3 linked regions of the Homo sapiens genome follow. The protein of the gene in region 1 interacts with the protein of each later gene in a biochemical or structural test. Each region holds a gene or a part of one and is shown on either strand. Other genes may lie near its edges.

Evidence for each region.
Region 2: of the proteins of MBP (region 1) and PRKCZ, one has a biochemical effect on the other in vitro, tested with the Homo sapiens proteins (2 studies listed by BioGRID).
Region 3: of the proteins of MBP (region 1) and MAPK1, one has a biochemical effect on the other in vitro, tested with the Homo sapiens proteins (16 studies listed by BioGRID and IntAct).

What each region holds. Positions count from the first base shown.
Region 1 is NC_000018.10:77,122,488-77,129,908, forward strand, and holds part of MBP (Golli-MBP), read right to left. Parts: exon of another isoform or gene 5,873-7,421; intron 5,162-5,872; exon of another isoform or gene 1-5,161. UniProt on the Homo sapiens protein: The classic group of MBP isoforms (isoform 4-isoform 14) are with PLP the most abundant protein components of the myelin membrane in the CNS. They have a role in both its formation and stabilization.
Region 2 is NC_000001.11:2,165,186-2,172,606, reverse strand, and holds part of PRKCZ (protein kinase C zeta type), read right to left. Parts: intron 4,317-7,421; coding exon of another isoform or gene 4,040-4,316; exon of another isoform or gene 3,157-4,039; intron 3,114-3,156; coding exon of another isoform or gene 3,090-3,113; coding exon 3,003-3,089; intron 553-3,002; coding exon 417-552; intron 307-416; coding exon 219-306; intron 1-218. UniProt on the Homo sapiens protein: Calcium- and diacylglycerol-independent serine/threonine-protein kinase that functions in phosphatidylinositol 3-kinase (PI3K) pathway and mitogen-activated protein (MAP) kinase cascade, and is involved in NF-kappa-B activation, mitogenic signaling, cell proliferation, cell polarity, inflammatory response and maintenance of long-term potentiation (LTP).
Region 3 is NC_000022.11:21,759,450-21,766,870, forward strand, and holds the end of MAPK1 (mitogen-activated protein kinase 1), read right to left. Parts: intron 4,792-7,421; 3' UTR 208-4,791; downstream 1-207. UniProt on the Homo sapiens protein: Serine/threonine kinase which acts as an essential component of the MAP kinase signal transduction pathway. MAPK1/ERK2 and MAPK3/ERK1 are the 2 MAPKs which play an important role in the MAPK/ERK cascade.

The DNA of each region.
Region 1 (7,421 bases):
AGTGAACTGCGGCATAGAAGACAGCAAAACGTTACACTGTATTTTGTTTCTTTCTTTTCTTTAAATTTTTTATGAGACAGAATCTTGCTCTGTCACTCAGGCTGGAGTGCATTGGCGCAATCTGGGCTCACTGCAACCTCCGCCTCCCGGGTTCAAGCAGTTCTCCTGCCTCAGCCTCCCGAGTAGCTGGGATTACAGGCGCCCACCACCACGCCTGGCTAATTTTTGTATTTTCAGTAGAGACAGGGTTTCACCATGTTGGTCAGGCTGGTGTTGAACTCCTGACCTCAGTTGATCCTCCCGCCTCGGCCTCCCAAAGTGCTGGGATTACAGGCATGAGCCACCGCGCCCGGCTAGTATATTTTCCATTCAACATAATTCTGCCAGTTCTAGTCGTCATCATCCAGTCTACTCTACTCCTCTACCGAGCACAACCCCCTTCTTTAGAAAGCCAGCAGCATTTTGTATACATGGCAGGGTATTGAGCAAATATTTTGCCATGGGAAAATTACTTGGGAACTTCTAAGCTTCCTAATAAAACTATAAGCACTTCAAGGGCAAGAATGACATCTATTTTCTCTTAACATACCCTGAAATGGACGGCATAGTATTTTTGTACACAGTAGACACCAAGGAATTTTTAAAAAGTAATGGTACGTTTGCTGTATGTGAGGAGCCTACAACATAGTTCTATAATTTTTTGCTTTGATAGCAAGTTTAGCAAACATGGTAGCTTTCAACCATACAAGAAAGATGAAGAAAATGAGTATCCATAAACGTTCCTCATCAGATGAAGACTCACGCAGGACATAAAATGTTATTCTCTAAATATGGAAAAAGCATCAAAAATACATGATGCAAATAAAAATAAACTGTCAACAAAAAGCTTTAGTATCAATTAGTTATTCTAATGCAAATTCAATTTATCAGTGAAACAGAAAGGACTTCCTGATCACATGAAAGCACACATTTGAGAGCTTGTGTGGGTCTATTCAGATGAGCTGTGTCGACCTGGAAACACCGAGGCACTCACGGTCTGTTTCCTTCCTTCACTTACAGCAGCAATCCTAAGTTAACCCGGAGCTCATTAAAATACATATTCCTGGGCCCGACCCCAAGACTGTGGGGTGGTATGCCAGGGTGGGCCTAGGACTCTGCATTTAATTTGAATTCTCAGTGTAATGTGTGCAGGTGGCTGCAGACCACAGGAGCCAGCTTGTCCCCTCTCCTGGTGAGCAGGTCAGGGGGCCACGGCAGATGCTTGGCTTGGGAGTTGGGCGTCCAGCCACCAAGGCAATTCTGTCCCTGCTAGGACTCTAAACTGATCCAGGTAGCTTTGTTTTGTTTTCCGTGTGTATTGACCTCTGGAGCTTTAGGTTTCTTAATCAGGCTCCAGGTGAAAAGCAGATCTGAGTAGAGCATTTCTCTGTCTCTCTGGGTTGGTGGTCAGCCGGGAAGCAGCCTAGGGCACCTGCACGGAGTCTGCGGGTGGAGCTGCCCTGAGCTCCATCCCTTCCCAGCACAGGGCATTTTGCTCTTGCCTGCAGGGCAGCATGGGCACACCTTCCTACCTGGAAGGAGCAGGGCTCTCTGGGAGCATCCCGTGTCACCAGATGCCCCAAAAGACGGGCCGCAACACCAGCAGTCCCCTGAACTGCTGAGAAACCTCCCTTTCTCCAGCCTCCTGCCTCCCCCTCATCTCTGCCTCTGGGTCCTTTGTTTCCATGTTCTATCTCCTCTTTATTACTTGCCTTTTTATACATTGTATATGTGGTCTCTAATGTAAAATTAAACAGGTAATTTGGTTAATCACTTACTATGAATAAAACTTCATTTTCTTTCTTGACCTTTGGAAAATTGGGGAGCTGAATATTAATCCCTTTACTCTTAAAGGAAGTGAATTGATGTAAACATAAATCGCTAGAATAACTCTTCTGGCCACCACGCCTCCCACCCCCCACCCCGTGCTGGCCTCCTTTCTTGGGGCTCAGTAGCTGCTGTGGTCGCTGCCTGCACCTCCTTCCCCAGCTGCACCCCCGGAAGTGGGGGTTGGACGCGGGGCAGCTGGGGCCGCACTGGCCTGGGTGCCTGTCTCAGGTGAGTTCGGAGGGGATGGGAGAGGAAAGGAGCAAAGTCTCCCTCGGGGCCAGTGGGGGAGAGCCCACCCACAGGAGATAGGAGATAGGGCTTTGGGGACTTCCTGAGGCTGTTGAGCGGGCAGCCACACTTTACCTCCAGAGTTTCTGAGCCAGGTCGCCTGCAGAGTGACAGGAAGTGGGGCCCTGGTTTGCTGGCCTCTGTCTGAATCATGCTAGACTGCTCTTAGAGGCCCAGCTCATTATAAATCCTGGCAGCCAAGAAGGAAAAAGGGCTGGATCCCCATACAAATTTTGTTCCTTAAATCTTTTCAGATTTAGCTAGATTCTCATGGTTCTTCCTCAAGTCATGGGCTCAAGAGTGAGGTTGCAAACACCTAGTTAATCCCCAGGCCTGTGCTGAATCCAGCCCACTCCTCTGAGGTCCCGGCTCCTGCCCGTTTCTGCACGCTTCTCTTTTTAGATCAATTTCTTTATCCTTCCTTTCTGCACTTATATTACTTGAACAAATGACAACGAAGAGGAGGGAGACTGTCTCTCCTGCCCTTTCTTCTTCCTCTCCTTCGCCTTCCTTGTCATTGTCATGCTCTTACCAAATTTCAGTAATTTCACCTCCACACCTGCTTTCAGATTCCTTTGTGGGGCCTTCTAATCTTCCTCTCTAACACTTCATTATCGCTGGTGTCATTTCCCCCCAAACTTTACATTGGTTTATTTATTGCTAATATAAATTACTAATTAGTTCGAACATATTAAAAAGCACAGATAATAATCTACAAGACAACTGGCTTATCCTTTTCATCAAAAAAAGTAACACATTCTGTTATTTGTATAAAATCTCAAAATATTTTTAAGAAATAAAACCATGCAGAGACAGCCAATTCCCTCCCCTCCCCGAGATTAGAAGATAACATTACCTGGCTTCTATATGTCATATAATCCCACGTAATCATGACCACATGTTCTTTTGTGGATTTGAAAATTTTAAAGAAATAGAATAATACTATATATATTCATTTGCAGTTTGCTGGTTTCCATTCAACACTGTTATTTAGAATTTTGTCCATGTTGATACACAAAGTCTGGGTAGTTTAACTGTTGTAAGTAAATCATAGCGTAAATCTATAGCCCTACTCATGGGGAATTAGTGTGTTTCCCTCCTTTTTTTTTGTATCAAAACTTTTACTCGATAAAATATGTACACCTAGTTCAGTAGTGCTGAGAGGGAATTCATACCCTGAAATACTTATATTAGAAAGCAGGAAAAGTCTCAAATCAATAATCTAAGATCTAATTCAAGAAACCAAAAAAAAAAGAGCTAAATATATACAAACAAAGTAGAAGGAAGGAAATACCCAAGAAAGAAATCCCCAGGCCCACATGGTTTCACCGGAAATTTCTACTAAAACAGTTAAGGAGAAATTTATGGCAATTTTATACAATCTCTTCCAAAAGTTAGAACAAGTGGGAACACTTTCTAACTCATTTTATGAGGCCAGTTATCCTGATACTGAAACTAGCAAAGACTATACAAAAAATGAGAACTATAGATCAATATCTCACAAACACTTAGAGGCAAAAGTCCTCAACAAAATATTAGTAAAGTGAATCTAGCAACACATAAAAAAGTTATATACATGGCTAAGTGGAATATATATCAGATACTCAAGGGTGGGTCAGCATTAGAGAGTCAGTCAATCAACTATCCATCATACCATGAAGTCAAAGAAGAAAAATCTCATGAACATATAAATTGTCCCAGAAAAGACATTTGACAAAATACAACACACATTCATGAATAGACATGGACTATTGACTTGATAAAGAACATCCATAAAAATCCTATAGCTACATCATAATTGGTGGTAAAAACTCAGTGCTTTGCCCTTTAGGTCAGAATAAGGCAAGTTCTTGCAACTCTTATTGAATATAGCACTGGACATTCTAACCAGTACGGTAAGATAAGAAAAAGAAATAAAAAGTATATAAATTGGAAAGAAGAAATAAAACTATCCAATTTGCAGATAACATGATGATCTACATAGACAATCCCAAGAAATCTACCAAAAAAAATCCTCCTAGATCTAATAAGGCAGCTCAGTAGGTTGCAGAATGTGGACTGACACATAAAAATTACTCACAGTTCTACCTACTCCACAATAAACGTGGAAACTGAAGTTAAGACACAATGCCATTTAGAAATGCCCCAAAGAAAATAAAACACTTATGTACACTGTAAAGAAATTTCAGATTCAGAATCTGTGCACTGAAATTTATAAAACATTGATGAAAGAAGTTAAAGAAGACCTAATTACCCATAGAGAGACAACCTGTGATCATGGATTGGAAAACTCAACACAGTAGAACTATTAATTCTCCCTAATCTATACATTTGAAGAAATTCCTATCAAAATCCCAGCAAGGTTTTTGCACCCATAAACGCGCTATTCTAAAATTCATATGGAAAGGCCCAGAACCTACAATAGCTAACATAAGTTTTATAAAGAATAATAAAGTGGAAGGAAGTCACTCCACCTGATTAAAGTTGACTATGCAACTACAGTAATCAAGACAGTGTGCTCTTGGCAGAGAGACTGACATATAGACTAATGGAACAGAATAGAGAACCCAGAAATAGACCCACAGCAATAAGTGGAAACGGTTTTTAGCAAAGGTGCAAAAGCAATTTAATGGAAGAAGGATCACCTTTTCAACTAATAGTCCCGGAGCTATTGGACATTCGTTGGCAAAACCCAAACCAAACCAAAACAAATAAGCCTCAACCTAAACCTCACACCTCATACAAAAATTAACTCAAAATGGAAAATAGGCTTAAGTATAAAATGTGAAACTATAAAATTTGTAGGGAAAAAAGGAGAAAATCTTCGGGAACCTCAGGCTAGGTGAAGACTTAGACTTCACACCAAAAATCAAAATCCAAAAAAGGTAAAATTAATAAACTTGAATTCAACAAAATGTAAAACTTTCTGCAAAGGACTCTGTGAAGAGGGTGAAAAAACAAGATAAAGTGGTAGAAAATAATCACCGAGTGGTAAGGCCAGCATCTAGAAAATATAAAGAATTAGGAAAACTCAGTTGTTAAAACCAAACAATCCAATTAAAAAGTAGGCAAAAGACATGAACAGACTTTTCACTGAGGAGGATACACAGATGGCCATAAGTACATAAAAAGGTCTTGATGTCATTAGCCATCAGGACAATGCAAATTAAACCATCAGGAGATATCACTACACACTTATTAGAAGAGCTAAAATAATAAAAAAAAAAAATAGTGGCAATACCAAATGCTGCCCAGGCTGGGAAGGTCCTGAATCACTCACACACCGCCGGTGGGAATGCAAAATGGTGTAGCCATTCTGGAAAAGAGTTAGCAGTTTCTCATAAAATTAGACATGTGCTAACCATATGACTCAGCAATTGCACTCCTGGGCATTTATCCCAGAGAAATGAAAACTATGTTCACACAAAAACCTGTACAAGAATGTTCACAGCAGCTCTATTTGCAATAACCAAAACCTGGAAATAATCCAAGTGCCCTTCCTGGGTGAACGGTTGAACACACCTTGGTTCATCCAGATGACGGAACACCACTAAGTAATTAAAAAGAAACACCTATGGACATGCTTGCCAACCCGGATGGGTCTCAAGGGAATTGCGTTTAGCGGAAAAAGCCAGTCTCGAAAGGTTGCATAGTGTATGATTCCATTTATAGAGCATTCTTAAAGCGACAAAATTATAGAAAATAGGAACCATACTGTGGTTGCCAGCCTCAGGGAGGGGGAAGGAGGAAGTCAGCTTGGCTATAAAGAGTAGCATCAAGGATCCTGTGATGAAACTCTCCTGTCCTCTGATGTGTTGGTGGTCACATGGTTCTACATGGGTGATAAAATTACAGAGAACTAAGCGCACGTGCATACCACACACACACACACACACACACACACACAGAGCAGTCTATAAAATGAGTACATGTAAACTGGTGGAATCTGAAATCTGAACAAAGTTAATGGGTTGTATCAATGCTCATTTTCTAGTTGTGGCATTGTACTATGGTTTTGTAAGATGTTATTGTTGGGAGAAACTGGTGAAGGGAATTGCATGTGAATCTACATGATCTCAAAACAGGGTTTTACTACATTGCTTCAGTGAATATCCACTGTGTGTGTCTTATGCACACAGACCAGGTTTTCCCTAGAGGAGATACCTAGAAGTGGAATTGTTAGATCTTAGGATACACCCACCTTCACTTTTTCTAGATTATTCTCTAACATCTTTGTTCCTATTTACATTCTAGTCGAACTCATGTGAGGTCTAAGTTTTCTACACCTTCTCTAATATTTGGTATAGTCACAATTTAAATTTTTTTCCAGTACCGTAAAGGTAAAAAAAAATCTTTTTGCCATCTTAGTTTTGAATTCCCTGATTCCCAGAGGGTTAAAGTCCTTTTCTTATTTTATCAGTCCATCTGGGTTTTCTCATTAGTCTCATATTTTACTCTTGAGTGGCTTGTTTCAAATTACCACATTTTAGAACTGTTTCTGTATTCTAGATCCTGGCCTCACATAGGTCTGTTTCTCCTCATCTTTTAGATATCCACCTATTTTTCACAATGGTGACTCAGACCAACGCAGTGCTATTCACAGAGTCCAGAACAAAAGAACATTCGGAATGACATTTTTACGCTTTAATGGCTATTGAGTGTGAGACATTACTAATAGCTTTGGAACATGCACTCGTGGTTGTTGCTGGCATGTGGGAGATGTTGCTGTGGAAGGCAGCTTCAGTCGGCCGGGGAGATCAGCTGCCTTCTGGCTGGCCTGTCCTACAGACGTCCCACAAACCTGGCCAGCCCACCTCTGCATAAGCCATTCCTTGCCATGAGTCTCTAATGTGTATCTCCACCTGCTTCTGTTTCTCTGGATGAAGCCTGTCCACTACAGGTTTTGACAGAGATTTAAAATCTCCTGTAGAGACTATTCCAGCTACTCGCCTGGCATTTCTGCTCAGCTGGCATTAGGGCCTGTGGCATGAGCACTCTTCCCTTAAACAGCTCCAGAGCTTCCTTCACGGGTTCCAATGGGCCAACAGAAGTGTCTTACTACTTAATGGCCACTTATTTAAAATTATCCCAAGAGTAATTAGAGGCCAGGCGCGGTGGCTCATGCCTGTAATCCCAGCACTTTGGGAGGCCGAGGTGGGTGGATCACTTGAGGTCAGGAGTTTGAGACCAGCCTGGCCAACATGGTGAGGCCCCATCTTTACTAAAAAACAAAAACAAACAAAAAAACGCAAAAATCAGCCAGG
Region 2 (7,421 bases), on another chromosome or scaffold:
TGCAGTGCCCTCCCCAAGGAGCTGCTCAAGTGGACATGGGAGGTTTTCCAGAATTCAAATAAGGGGCTGAGGCCAGATGATGACATCCGGCTGGGAAAGACAGTGTGTGGCTTTTGGGTGTAAGATGGTCAAGGACACCTCTCCCTGGCTGCTGGGCCAGGCCCGAAGCCATCTCTGGCCCTGTGTGCTCCGAGAGGGGCCAGGGCAGCGGCACTCACCGTACTCCTCTCCCCGCAGGATTTCGGGGGCGATGTAATTCGGGGTTCCGCAGAAAGTGCTCGTTGTGTCACCAGGGCCCAGGCCTTCCTGTGGGGGCAAAGTTACTGGGAGAGGGTTCTTGTAGACACTACCCCGCGGGACAGGCGCCCCGAGACGCACATGCGGGATGGTCAGGGGAGGCGGTCCAAGGCACGCACCTTGCACATGCCGTAGTCTGTGAGCTTGATGTGCCCGTCCGCATCCAGGAGGACGTTGTCCAGCTTCAGGTCCCTGTAGATGATCCCCCTCTCGTGCAGGAAGTTGAGGGCGATGCAGATCTCGGCCGCGTAGAACCTGGGGGTGGGGATGCCGTCATGGGGGCAGTGCCTGTGCCAGAGGCTGCGCCAACAGCTCCAGCCTGGGGGCCACACACTCCCGTTTGCCCCACCACGGGCCCGGCATCCTCTCAATGACCAGGCCCAGGATTTGAAAGTGCAGTGCACAGGGCCAGGGAGGGAAATGCCAATGAAAGCTCCAGGACACCACCCCATGCGCCTTAGGATGGCCTGCTGTCAAAGACACAGAGAACGATGTGGCAGCCTCCACAAGGGGAGGAGCGGGCAAATAACACGACAGCTTCCATGCGGGAAAGACCGGAGCCATGGCACGTTGTGGTAGGAGTGCAGAACAGCGCCGCTGCTGCGGAAGACAGTCCGGCAGGTCCTCGAAAATTAAACACGGTGCCAGGCTTGGTGGCTCACACCTGTAATCCCAGCACTTCGGGAGGTCGAGGCAGGCAGATCACCTGAGGTCAGGAATTCAAGACCAGCCTGGGCAACATGGCGAAACTCCGTCTCTACTAAAAATACAAAAAAATTAGCCGGGTATGGTGGCGCACACCTGTAGTCCCAGCTACTCTGGGGGCTGAGGCAGGAGAATCACTTGAACCTGGGAGGCAGAGGCTGCAGTGAGCTGAGATCCCACCACTGCATTCCAGCCTGGGTGACAGAGCGAGACTCCATCAAAAAAAAAAAAAAATTAAATATGACCTTTTTTTTTTTTTTTTTGAGACAGAGTTTCACTCTGTCACCCAGGCTGGAGTGCAATGGCGCGATCTTGGCTCACTGTAAGCTCTGCCCACAGGTTCACGCCATTCTCCTGCCTCAGCCTCCCGAGTAGCTAGGACTACAGGCGCCCGCCACCACACCTGGATAATTTTTTGTATTTTTAGTAGAGACAGGGTTTCACTGTGTTATTTCACCGTGTTAGCCAGGATGGTCTCGATCTCCTGACCTCGTGATCCGCCCGCCTTGGCCTCTCAAAGTGCTGGGATTACAGGCGTGAGCCACCACGCCCGGCCTAAATATGGAATTCTTATGTGGTTAGCAATTCAGTTTCTGGGTGTATACCCCAAAGAACCGGAAGCAGGGTGTTCAAGAGATTACTTCACACCCATGTTCACAGCAGCACTGTTCACCATGGCCAACATGTGGATGCCACTCAAGTGCCCCCCGAGGGATGGACGGATAAGCAAAGTGTGGCCCCTCCATCCAACGGGGCATTATCCAGCCTGAAAAAGGAAGGCAATTCTGAGACAGGCCACAGCACGGATGAATCTTGAGGACGCTATGCTCAGGAAAATGAGCCACCGAAGGACCAACACTGTGATTCCACTCCGATGAGGTCCCTAGAGTCCTCGAATCAGAGGGACAGAAAGTGGGACGTGCCCGTCTGGGGTGAGGATGTGAGGCTGGGGCGGGGGACAGGGAGGGAGTGTCTGATGGGCCAAGCTTCAGCAGGGAAGAGGGGCGTGCTCTGGAGATGAGACGGGGGCCAGCAGTGGCTGCAAAGCATGGGGTGCATTCAACGCCACTGAATTCCATGCCCCAAAATGCTACCTTTTATGTTGTGTGTTGCCACAGTTTTTAAAAACAGCGTTGTGGGAAGTGTACTGTTCTAGATTTATTGCCTACTGTCCTATTGCCAGAAACAATCTAAGGTGACTCACAAAACTGCATGCAACGTTCTTAAGTAAGGAAATGAGGAAAAGGAGAAACTACAAAAGACAGGAAAGGTCCAGGGAGCTGAAATAAGCCCCCAAACGGTCCTGGAGGTCCCGCGGCTGCCGGGGGAGGCTCCTGAACCATGCTGGAGGCCCCTCGGCTGCCAGGGGAGGCCCGAAGATATCAGAGATGAAAGGGAAGGGCAGGAAGGAGTCTCTCAGGTCACTCTAGAAACAGACCACTCTCGTTCTGCTCCTAACGCTGAGGAAATGCTGGCCATGCTGTGCCACTAACAGGGTGAAGAGCAGAACCAGGGCAGAGCCACCATGAAGACAGCACAATCCCAGGAGACTCTCACTTCTCTCGGATGAGGCATGGTGCTGCTTCAGGGGTGGGGCCTGGGGGACTGGTCTGAGGCACCATAACTCAGGAGACCTCCCAAATGTTGTGACTCTGGAGCAAATATGGAATGTGTCACAATGCAGGGGACGTCACACTGTGGGGGACATGATGCCCTCTGCCATCCTACCTGGACTTCCCTCCCTTGAGCTCCCTGCTGACCCCTGGAGAAGGTCCCCGGCCCCCTCCACGTGCACCCCGCCCCCCCCGCCCCCGTCATACCCCCTCCGTGCACACCCCACCCAGCCACCTCCCCTCTGCGCACACCCACCCGGCCCCCCAACTCCGCGCGCACCCACCCGTCATCCCTCTGTGCGCACCCACCCAGCCCCCCAACACCGCACGCACCCACCCATCCCCAACTCCGGGCGCACCCACCCGGCCCCGTCCACGCGCACCCACCTGGCGTGCTCCTCAGGGAGCTTCCTCTGCCTCTGCATGTGGAACATCAGGTCCCCGCCGTTGACGTACTCAATGACCAGGAACAACCTGCAGGGAGAGAGGCGCCGGAGGCTGCAGTCACCTCGGCAGACGGCGGCCTCCTTAGACAGAAGCCCCACAGAAGCGGCCTTCGTGGGCCCGAACCCTCCCGCAGGTTCAGTCTTGCAAAGAGCAAAGAGCAGCAGGAGCACCCTGGCAGCAGAGAGGGGCTGGTGGGGACGGGCTGCGGGGCCGCTCGTGAAGGGTGCAGGTGAGGGAGTCATGCGGGGGCCTCGCCGGCCTTCACTCTTGGCCACTGTGTGTGGACTTGGGAAGTGTGGGTGGGCCCCGGAATGAAGGAGGTGGCCCGTCACCAGGTGGGAGTGGAGGTGGCTTGGACCAGGGCTGGGGGCTGGGACAGGATCTGCTGGGGGCTGGAGCGAGGCAGTTTCTTGCATGGGGACAGCACCGCAGGTCACGGGTGGGGTGGCCTCAAGGCCTGATTTCATTGCTGCAAGGCTGAGGAGTCCACCGGCCCTCCAAGGGAACAAGCTGGGGTCAGGGAGAAGCCAGGTGGGAAGTGGCATCCCGGTTTCGCAGACATGATCGTATGATTTTAAAAGATCCGCAGATGTCATCAGGACCACGCAGGCCCTTCCCGTCTCAGGGACTGGGCCACATGGTTTCTCTTCCTAATAAGATCTTTTCCTACATTTCATGAGACTCAATTTTCAAAATTAAATTCTCATACAATCTCCCAGAAATACCCTGTGGCGGGTTTTTTTAGGTCAGCGGCTCCTCTGGCACCTGAATTGTTTATTTGCTTCCGACTGGTGGCTGCTCCTGGCTGCCCCTCGTGGAGCGGGGAGTGAAGGAGGGAAGCGTGTGGTGACTCTGCCCGTTTCCTTCGATCCCACGCAAGCTCCCACACCACCGCCACTGTTACGCCTCAAGGCACCTGTCCCTGCTCCTGCCCTCCACAAGCTCCCAGAATTAAGCCAGAGAGGACAGAGGCCAGTTTACACAGGGCAGGTGAACTGGCTGCAAATCATCTGTGAAGTTTCTGATTGGAAACAAACTCCTAAAAATCGAAAGAGCCCTGGGCCCCAAGTGAGGAGCTGGAGAGACGTCCACGTGGCCAGTCGGGCACCCTGAAGAATAAGCCGTGCCTTTGGGGAGCGGCTGGGGAAGGCTCGTTCCTCGGCTTTTGTTGTCTCCCCTGCCTCCAACGGATGTGCCTGGAAATTCTCTGGTAACCTGGCCCTTGTCCTTGGGGACTCGCTGGTCCACTGCTCCCTGTTTTGTAAATAAAGTTTTATTGGAACGAGGCTATGCTCACTGGTGCATCTATTTTCTATGTCTGCTTTCCAGCCACCGTGGCAGAGGGAGTTGCTAACAGAGACCCTGTGGCCGCAAAGCCAAAAATGTCTACTCTTGGGCCCTTCAAGAAAAAGTTTGCCAATCCCCGGTATAAACAAAATAGCAATGACAGAAAGAGCAGCTCTGAGGGTGCCCTCGATGTGCAGGAACGTCCTCAGTGCACCCGTGGAGGGACTCGTTCAGTAACGTCAACCCCACGGAACGAAGCTCCATGAAGGCCTCCAACCCCTGGAGGACACCCACGACCTAAGAGTCGGTCAGAAAACGTTAAGAAAGAATTTATTCAAAACCCTTAGAGTGCCTGGGCGTGGTGGCTCACGAGGCCTGTAATCCCAGCATTCTGGGAGGCCAAGGCAAGCAGATCACCTGAGGTCAGGAGTTCGAGACCATCCTGGCCAACATGGTGAAACCTCATCTCTACTAAAGATACAAAAATGACCCAGGGCTGGTGGTGTGCACCTGTAATCTCAGCTACTCGGGAGGCTGAGGGCAGGAGAATCGCCTGAACCCAGGAGGCACAGGCTGCAGTGAGCTGAGATTGCGCCACTGCACTCCAGCCTGGGCGACAGAGCAAGACTCTGTCTCAAAGAATAAAATAAAAATACAAAAAACCACAAAAACCCTTAGGGTGACTTCACCGCACATTTTTTGCCACCAGGAGTTACACGCCCCAATGGGTGCTGGTCCCTTCCACCTGTCCCCCCGAGAGGAGCCACGTTCACCCCAACAGTGCTGCTGCGGCGCCTGGGAAGGGCCTCCACGGCCTCTGTGGGTTCATCCTAACTTTAAGCTATCACGGCCCATAGGACGGGGACAAAGCCAATGCCATTTCCAGAGAAAATAAAGAAATACATGAATTCTAGAGAAAAGCATCAATACAATGCCTCAGGAGGCTGAGAGAATTTGGGGGACATTTAAACACTTAGAGAGGTAGAGGCGGAGGCCGCTTCCCCTTCTTCTCCAGAGAAAAGCCAATCACGGGAACTGTGCTGAAAGCCAGTTCTCTCTGCCCAAGGCCTAGGACCCAGGCAGCTTGCTGAGGAAGGAATTTATTTAATTTGCAACTGCTCAAGCTGCAATGATGGTGGGGTTTTTTTGTCTACAGAAAAACCTTAATGCTACTTTTGACATTTCTTCAGAGCAAAAACCCACCAGGACAATCTGGTGTCAATTCACTCTAAGGCGACTCTGCGTGACACAAGCTGAGCTGGCTGCTGACAAGATGCCTGGGACCATGGCTGAGCATGCTCCGAGCCCACTCCTCTCCTCACGCTGGTGGTGTGCACCTGTAATCCACATGGGCTCGGCCCACTTGGGTGCCCCACAGGCGCTGTCCTGCATAGAGGCTCTCAGGCAGGGGCGCAAGGCCAGGCCAGGGGCGTGTGTGGCTTCACCCGTAGCCCCTCAGTGACACACACAGTCCTGACCCCAAGGGATGCTGGGAAGCACAGCCTGGGGGTGGGGGTGGGGGGCTGAAGGTGCCCCTCCATGTCCTGGTAGCCACACTCGCCATGTCGTGGCCTGGGGGGGGCTGAGGCTGCCCCTCCGTGTCCTGGTAGCCACACTCGCCATGTCGTGGCCTGGGGGAGGGGGCTGAGGCTGCCCCTCCGTGTCCTGGTAGCCACACTCGCCATGTTGTGGCCTGGAGGCGCTGGGGATGCCCCTCCCTGCTCCCTGTCCTGGCATTAACGCTCCTCTCATGTTTGCAAGGGGAGAGGAGCAAGCAGAGCCCAGATGGGAGGCGGGAGGCGGGAGTCATGAGACACGTGCCCTCGGGGCTGTTTTTCTGAGACAAGATCTCACTCTGTCACTCAGGCTGGAGTGCAGTGGTGTGATCATGGCTCACTGCAGCCTCGACCTCCCAGGCTCAGGCAATCCTCCGGCTTCAGCCTCCCGAGGAGCTGGGACCACATGCTTGCACCACCACCGCCAGCTAATTTTTAAATTTTTTGTAGAGAAAGGGTCTCGAGATATTTCCCAGGCTGGTCTTGAACCCCTGGCCTCAAGTGATCCTCCGGCCTCAGCCTCCCAAAGGGCTGGGATTACAGGTGTGAGCCACTGCACATGCCTGTCCATGATACTTAATCAAATACACAAACGTGAAGAACGCCAGCAAAAATGGATTCATCAACAACCAAAGACAAAGTGCAGCTCTCAGGAACCAGGCGAGACGCAGACCGCAGCCGGATCCAGTCCCTGACCCTGCCCTGGAACCGGCACCATCCAACAGACATGGGAAATGGAGGGACAGTGGCCGCAGGGGGATGCTGGAAGCTCACGAAACCTCCTAGGGGGCGGCCGGGGGCTGAGGGAAGCTCACAAAACCTCCTAGGAGGTGGGCCCTGTCCTTGGTGCCGCCCCCTCCTCGCCACTCCCCCCACCCCTTCCAGGAATGCAAGGTGCCCGGCTCAGAGGGAGGAACCACAGCCCTCTCCTGGAGGCACAGGAGACGCTGCCCTGAGAGTCAAGAATTAACCAGATGGGTCCGGGCGGGCCACCACCATGTGTGTACAGAAAGTTCTGGTGGAACACGGCCACACGCGTCCCTTCACGCAGTGTCTAAGGCTGCTTCTGTTTTAGAACGCATAGTTGCCACAGAGGCCGCATGGCCCACAAAGGTGGAAATATTTACTGCCTGACCCTTTAAGACAACCTTTGCTGACCGCTGGTGTGGCCCTCAGTAAGCGTCAGTCTCCAAGTCCCTCTGTGTTAACGCACTTGACCCCATCACCAGGAAGTAAGTTCAGCTCTCGCCATTTTACAGATGGGGAAGCCGAGGCACAGACAGGTTAGGGGACGTTCTCCGGCTCACACAGCTCCTGGCTTGTCAGACCCAACATCAGATGACTCGGGCGGGCCCAGAACCCTCACTTGGAAACCCCACTTCCAGGTCCTGTCCCCACCTCACAGCGGACATCACAGCGGTGACAGCACCGTCATTACAGGGCACGCTGGAAAATCAGATTCCTGACTCGGAGAGCAGGACGGACATTAAAGCTCTGAGGAAGACACCAGCAGATG
Region 3 (7,421 bases), on another chromosome or scaffold:
GAGGGCCAGTGGAATACTCCCACAGTGCTTCAAATACCCCATTGCAAACTCCCAGTTTAGGTGTGATCAGCTCACTTCCCTGAAGGTTTCTGACAGGAGGGTTTCTTCTCTGATTAGTAAGAGGGTTTCCTCTCAGATTAGCAGTTACGTTTGTTTGCAGGCATTTTAGTGACACCTCACAACAAAATTTAGTGAAATAAAGCAGCATTTAAAAAGACTTGCTATTTACTGAGTACTTGCTTTGAAGTACTATGCTGAACAGTTGAAATGTATTTTTATAATCTTTACCATATACAAGGCAAGTAATATTGCTTCCACTTTACAGCTGACAGTCTGAAGCAGAGGAAGAAAGCAGAGACGCAGAATGACTGGCCCACAGCCAGCCGCAGTTATAAGCAGGGGGTAGTTCTGAACCCAGCTGGATGGGTCCAAGGCCTGTGCTCTTTCCATAACACCACATCCAAAACATTTTCCAGTATCTTTGTTTTGTAAATAAGTCATTACATAATGCCCAATATTGATAAGAACCAAATGTCCAAGAAATCCTATCTTTATGACTTCTTGCTCTGAAAAAAGGGGTTGCCCAGGATGTCTGCCCAGCAGTGGGGTTGCAGAAGTTCAGGAGGATGAGGAGATGGGCGTGGGCACCGCCTACCCCCCCCCCCACAGGTGAAGGTCTGAAGAACCACCTGGAGAACCCTAGGAGCACTGACATCCCCATTCAACTCGAGGAACAGCTCACAGCCCTAACACAAGTTACCACATGCAGAGCAAATCTGGAAGACATCTGGGGAACATAACGAAGGACTAGACAATTTCACGTTTTCACAGATGAAACTGCAATTAAACTATACATGCACGGTGCTGTGTTATTTTGGTAATACAGGGACACAATTTAATGATTCTAAGGATTTTTTTGTAGTTTTTTTTTTTTACAAGTCAGGTGCCATAAACATTCAAATAATCCATCTTTTAAAAAGTACGTTTACAACATCAAAAGAATTAAGATGAAATATAAACCTTTCTACTTACAATTTTTATACAGATTAACCAAATCACAAATACCACAAATAAATGTTAATGTTAAATTGTAACAATATAATGAATAAACATTCAGATTCTTAATAAAATCTTCCTTTAACATTTTTTAACTTACCATTATACTAAATAATCTATGCAGAATTTTGGGGTACAATACCAAGAAGGCACCAACAGTACAAAGCAGATACAAAGCAGTTTCAGAACTTTCTTGAGTGCTCTACACGCATAAACAGCACAAGAAAAGGCAACAAGCTTTAGGTAAACCTGGTGCAACCCTGGAGGACTTGCTCTGGATTTCCATTTGTTTCTGACCCATCATGTCAAGGTGGATGACGTAAGAGAAACCACATATTCACTGTTATAGCTTCTCATCTGCACCACAGGAGTATCATGTTTCAAACACCAGCATAACAATTTTAAAGCACAAATGCTTTAAAAATGTATAAGCAAAAGGATTGCTCAGATTTTCAAAACCATTACATTTACAAAAATATTTCCCTTAAACTTGGGATTGCTCCAAAACATTGATTTACAAATATAAAAGTATTATGGAAGGACCCAAAGCATGTGTGCGTATGTATGTGTGTATTAACATACTGTTACCATACTATATAAAAGTTACCAATTTAAAAACCATATTAACATATAAGCAAATAAAGAGAAAACAGTTTCCTCTGAATGGCTGAAATATTACGTGGCATGTGGTTGGGTAGTTTACTTTTGTGATTCCTTAGAGAAAACCACTGGTGAGCTACATGTAGCTTCTCAAAGCTACTGGTTACCTCTACACCCACTGCCTGTGCCCAAGAGCAGAAGGAATGAGTGTGCACACACCACACACTGTGCACTGCACACACAATACAGTATTCTTCTACCCAGATGCCACAATGTCTGCGTATCTCTGCTAGCTTTGAGGACCTGTGTCAGGACAGAGTCCTCATGATTAGTTCTTTCAATTCCATCCCACTGGCTTGTTCAGTATTTCTTTTATACTAAATGAAAGGACTGGAATGTTTCAGCAGGAATTTTTTGCTTACATTTTAGACACCAAAAAAGCTATTAGTCTGAAAGCTTATTTGAACATACAAATAGTGGAGGTGCTGTTCCGTGTCACTAATATGAATTAAGATGACCTAATCTGTACATTTTTACAAATGTAAGAAGAGCCAAAATGATGCATCTACTACACATGATAGCTAGCGCTTTTCATAGGTACCTTGGTTAGGACCATTCTCTGCCCAGTTACATTATGTTTGGCATGATTAATAAAAAGCACACAACTTATGGCTACAATGATTCTAGAATGAAGTTAGTGGTTTCATGCCAATCTGACTCCACAGTACCAGGAAGGGGAATGGGAAGGAGCTCACAGTCTCCAGATGTTAGTAGCCAAGGATATGGTTTTCTATTTAGAAGAGGACTCCAAATTAACCTTATAATAGTAACTTTCCATTTAAAAAGAAACAAGAGTAATAAAACTGTCAATGCTTTTTTATAAATGAAAACTGACTAATCAGTGTTATCCGGTAACAGTCACATTTCTGTGTCCCGTCAATGCTGTGTGGACCTTCAGACGGCAGCTCTGAGCACGCAAGTGAAAAGCGCGTATTTCAGGGCAAGAATAGAGATGTGGGTCTGTTTTCCGAGGATGAGCCAGCTATCCTTCCTCAGCCACAGGAGTGGTGAGCGTGAGCACCCTGGGCTGGGTGGTGAGGACTGCGTACTGTGGGGCGGCCCTTCCCAACTCTTGGCTGTGCCCAGCAGCACCTCTGGGGCACAAGGGCAGGCCCTCTTTAGAGAGAACCAGGGAATCCAACCTGAGATGTCGGGGCTTCTTTGTTAGGGTTTGACAGAATATTTGAGACCTAAGATTGTGAATAAAGGAACATGACAGCATCGATTCTCTGCCGAGCAGAGGTAAAAAGGACCCTACAGAAGTACCTTTCTAACTCATCTTATGTAAATCCAAGTGCTGGGCCAGTGCCTGGGCGGCAAAGTGAGGCCTGTGAGCATTTCTGTGTTCAGCACAACCTGAACCTGACTGTCCATTCAGACACGCTGATCCAGAGGAAAGCAACACTGAATCTTAACATGAATGTGAAGATAGAAGATGTACATTTATTTTCATGAATTACAAATGCATTTCTGTTCATATTAGCAGGCAGTCTTTATATAACCCATTCTCCATTGCTGTCAAAAATCAAACAAGAAAAAAGGACAGCTGAGAAATGAAAAGCTAAAAATAGAATTATTTTTCCTAAATGATCTGCTGGATAGCATTTTCCGTGGAACACAACTCAGAGGTAACAATAGAGTTTTCATTTCAATCGTAGGCATGTGGCACTTGGACAGTCATCTCTGCACAGAAAGCTGTAACAGTCATGCGAGGGTACAGTAATTATTGAACAAGGCAAATTTCTCACCACAGAGAGCAGTGGGGAAGTCAAGAGGAGGCACCGCACTGGGACAGAACACCGAGTCAACTCCACAGTACACAGTGGCAGGAACAAATACTTAAAGAGATCAGTAAAATATGGATAGAGCTCCAAACACGAGTTAGTGCTAGCTTTTTCTGACAGTCTGACTCAGCAGTATCAGAAATATTTGAGTACTTGAGGACAGAACAGTGCTTCACGTCATGAGCTCCTGGAGGCTTTATTACAAATTGTTATACTGTAGGTTGAAAAATGAACTTGAGATGCTGACATGCTGTAGAAGGAAAAAGAATTGTATACTTTCTCATTTAAAGACGCAGTGTTCCTCTCTGCTAAATCCTCAGGCATGGAACGTGGTTACTGAAACACCCACATTTGAAGTAGCTCAAGGGCGTATATGCACCAGCATGTGGAGTTCCACCCTGGGACATCCCCAGAAACCGCCCACAGCTCAGCACTGCAACCTTTGTACTTCTCTCACCAAATGTCGAGTGAAGCTGCCACTTTAAATCTTTTTTTGTAAGTCTTACAAACATTAAGTACTGCACATAACGCTTCTTGACAAGTGTTACACCTCTATATGGTACAAGTGACCACAGTAACTACAGAGTGACACTGCTGGGTGCAGTACTTCCTTTTTATTTAGAAAAATGACTGCATTTTCTAAAAGCTGGGCCAATAGCACATACCTTATATATGTTAGTGACTACCATGATATGAGAAAAGACGTGGACAAGTGCTCCCCAAGGATTCCGGAGACGGAAGCACTTGCTGCAGGCTGCAACATCAGCCAAGGTATTTCCACAAGCTCCTGCTCTGGGGAAACAGTTATGGTCAAAAGGTGAAGTGCAAATAAGGGGCTGTCACTGACTTAAAGTGCCCTAGGTAGTAGCCTTCCCTATCATAAAGTGAGATGCCAGTGACTAGAGCCAATTGGGGAAGAATCTCTCTCTGGTGCGGCTGCATGGTCAGCAGGGCATCATGTAGAAAAGGATTCAGGAGAGGGAGGAACCACTGCATCTTTCAAACCAGAAAGCAATTAGTGACTAAAGCAACAGTAAGCAGTAGGTGCACTGAAGTACATACTGCCGCAGGTCACCAATGGGTGACACACACAGGGCTGCCAGGAGGAATTCTCTGGACTGAAGAAATTCTTTGAAAGCATAAAAGCCACAACTACCAGAAACCGCCCCTCCAAACGGCTCAAAGGAGTCAAAGTGGATAAGCCAAGACGGGCTGGAGACAGGACCAGGGGTCAAGAACTGGGAAGAAGAACACCGATGTCTGAGCACGTCCAGTCCTCTGAGCCCTTGTCCTATAGAAACACAAACAGACCACTGAGTTAAGAGTGAGCCATGTGAAAACAGCATCATCATCAGCATCACAAAACACAAAAGTGACAACAGTGAACCACATTAAAACAGCAGCAGCAGCAATAGCATTATGAAAACAGAAAAGGGAAAAAAGACTCCTGCAAAATGGCCATTTCTTTGGACACATTTGGGCAAGGATAACACATGGCAGTTCTGAAGGGGCCAGGGTCAGCCCTCACTCCACAGGCACCTCCTCTCAGACAGTTCTGAGGTGGTTTCCACAACACTCATAGGAAAGACGCCACTCCCCCAGCCTACGCTGACTGCAGTGTTCCTAAGATGTCCTTTATTTACCGTAAGATATCCAACACTAGTGCATGAAAATCTAGCAGAGTATCACTTACTATTTCACAGAGCACTTTCAGAGCTGTGGTTTCCATCTGCCACTCAGGAGGTGGGGCAAGAAGAATGGGCTAACTATAGCCAAACTGTGGACTTGGAGATGGGCTAAGAGGGAGAAGTGGTCTCTTTTATGTAGAGGTGAACTGCAGCCAAACCTACGGGTTGGCAGGAAATTAAAGCTGCCCTAAAATGCTTTCATCTTCAATAAACCAAAGGGAAATGCGGTTCATGCCCCTAGTGATCAATCCACCTGAGAAAATTCACAATCAGGCAGATGAAGAAGGAAGTTGAGCACTGACCTCTACCTTCACCCGCCTCACAGGGTAGGAGACTGAGGACATGGGCTGGGTAGGAATGAGGCTTGTCACAGGTAGTAGGCATGATCAGCTTTTAAACTTGCCCATGGAAACATTTCTAAAACTGACCCCCTTAAGCAAAATACAATGAATATAATTTGACCCTTTTTTAAGACCTTTCGGCCACCACTACAAATATCACTTCATTGCTTCCTCTACCAAAGGGGCCCCACAGCTGTGCTCTGTGGTCCTGGGGTGTATGTTTCTAAGCCTTTCTTGCTGCAGCCAAACGGTCAACCGTGCCCTCCCAGTGTTCCCATGTTTTATTACACCTTTACCTCCTGAGCTCTCCAATTCAGAGCTCCTGATCTCCAGTGTGTGGGCTGGGAACTCAGAGACAATGCTCCTTAGTATTGTGAATGAGTCCTGAGAACTTTCCCAAGGAGCAAGGCTAATCACAGGCAGTGTGCAGCCTGCCACTGTTTCATGCTGGCAAACATTTCAAGAAAATGACATTCTGGGTCCAAAATACCTGGATTCTCTGCCTAGTTTTGCCACTTGATGTACAATTTTGAGCGAAGTGCTCAAAGGCTCCTGTCTTCAGTTTCCTCAATTATAAACATGGATGCATGCTGACTTCCCAAAATTCTGTTGTGATCACCAAAATGAAATGTTTATGAAAGAACCTATCCCATAGTTTAATCAGCCAACCCAGCCCCAGCTTCCCCTGGATTCATGTGATATTCTAGATGACTAAATTGTAAGTCAGTCTAGACGTTGGCAACGTCCTTTGCAATGAATGGATAAAATGCGATGGGTTGATGGGTGGATAGAGGAACAGATGGACAGATCTATGAGAAAACAAGTAAGATGTTAATGTTAACTGTATAATCTAGGTGGTGGGAATATGGGTGTCTACTTTAAATTCCTTCAACTTTTCAGAATAGTTGAAAACTGTCACTAAAAGAATGTTGGGAAAAAAAATCATGCTATAAGCACATAGGGAGCATCTGTGTGTCTTCTGTGTCTGGAGCAAATGAACAACGCACAGAGGTGACTGTCCTTGCCACGCCGGGACTCTCAGAGTGGTGGTGGACCTGAGAGGGATACTGGTCCCCCGCCTTGCAAAGCTGGCTTCAGGAGGCGTTCTGCCAGCAACTGCGCCCTGTGGCCTCAGGAGCAACCCTGCCTCTGTCTTGCCATCCTTGTGCCTGCGGTGCTGCCTGTCTCTTCAGTGGCCTGACCAGTTTTCCCCCAAGTCCCTGCTCTCAGAGGTCCTCCTGCATCCTTACTGCCACCAGAGTCACCTGAGCCACTGCTTCAGGTCAGGCAGCTACCTGTGAGGGAGAGCTGGCCTCCTGGGGAAGCAAGGGCCACAGCCTGGGCTGGCCTCTTTCTCTGCAGCCCCCCTCTTGCCCAGCTGTCTGGCATGCCCGCCTTCCAGGGTCCACACAGCTGTGCCCCTCCCCAACCAGCAAAGAACCCAACTGTCAGGTTTCAGCTGCAGCACAACTGCCGCGAGTCGGCCACACTCTGTGAGGCTTTAATGTCTGCCTTACTCTCTGGGACCCACCATGCCTGTGTCCATCTCTGGGACTCTGTATACTCCTTGTTGTTTACATTTCCTGCTATGAGGCTGCTGGAAAGCAAAACCTGGGTTTTATTCATCTTTGTTCCTTTCCTAACTGGCGAAAGGAAGTGCTCAATGCTGATTAAATGATGAAAAACAAATTATCACGTCAACCCCAGAAGCTCTTTTATACTAAAAATGTGCACAGTTGTGTGTGTGTGTGTCTTTCTCCCCTACTACATGGGCCCCTCTGAGGCTGTGTTTAGGTCCTGCTTGCCGCGTTTGCTGTTAGTGTCTAATGCAGACTAAGCAGGCAGCACTGCCGCCTGACCTGAAGCGACAGAGATGAGATGCTCACAAGCCA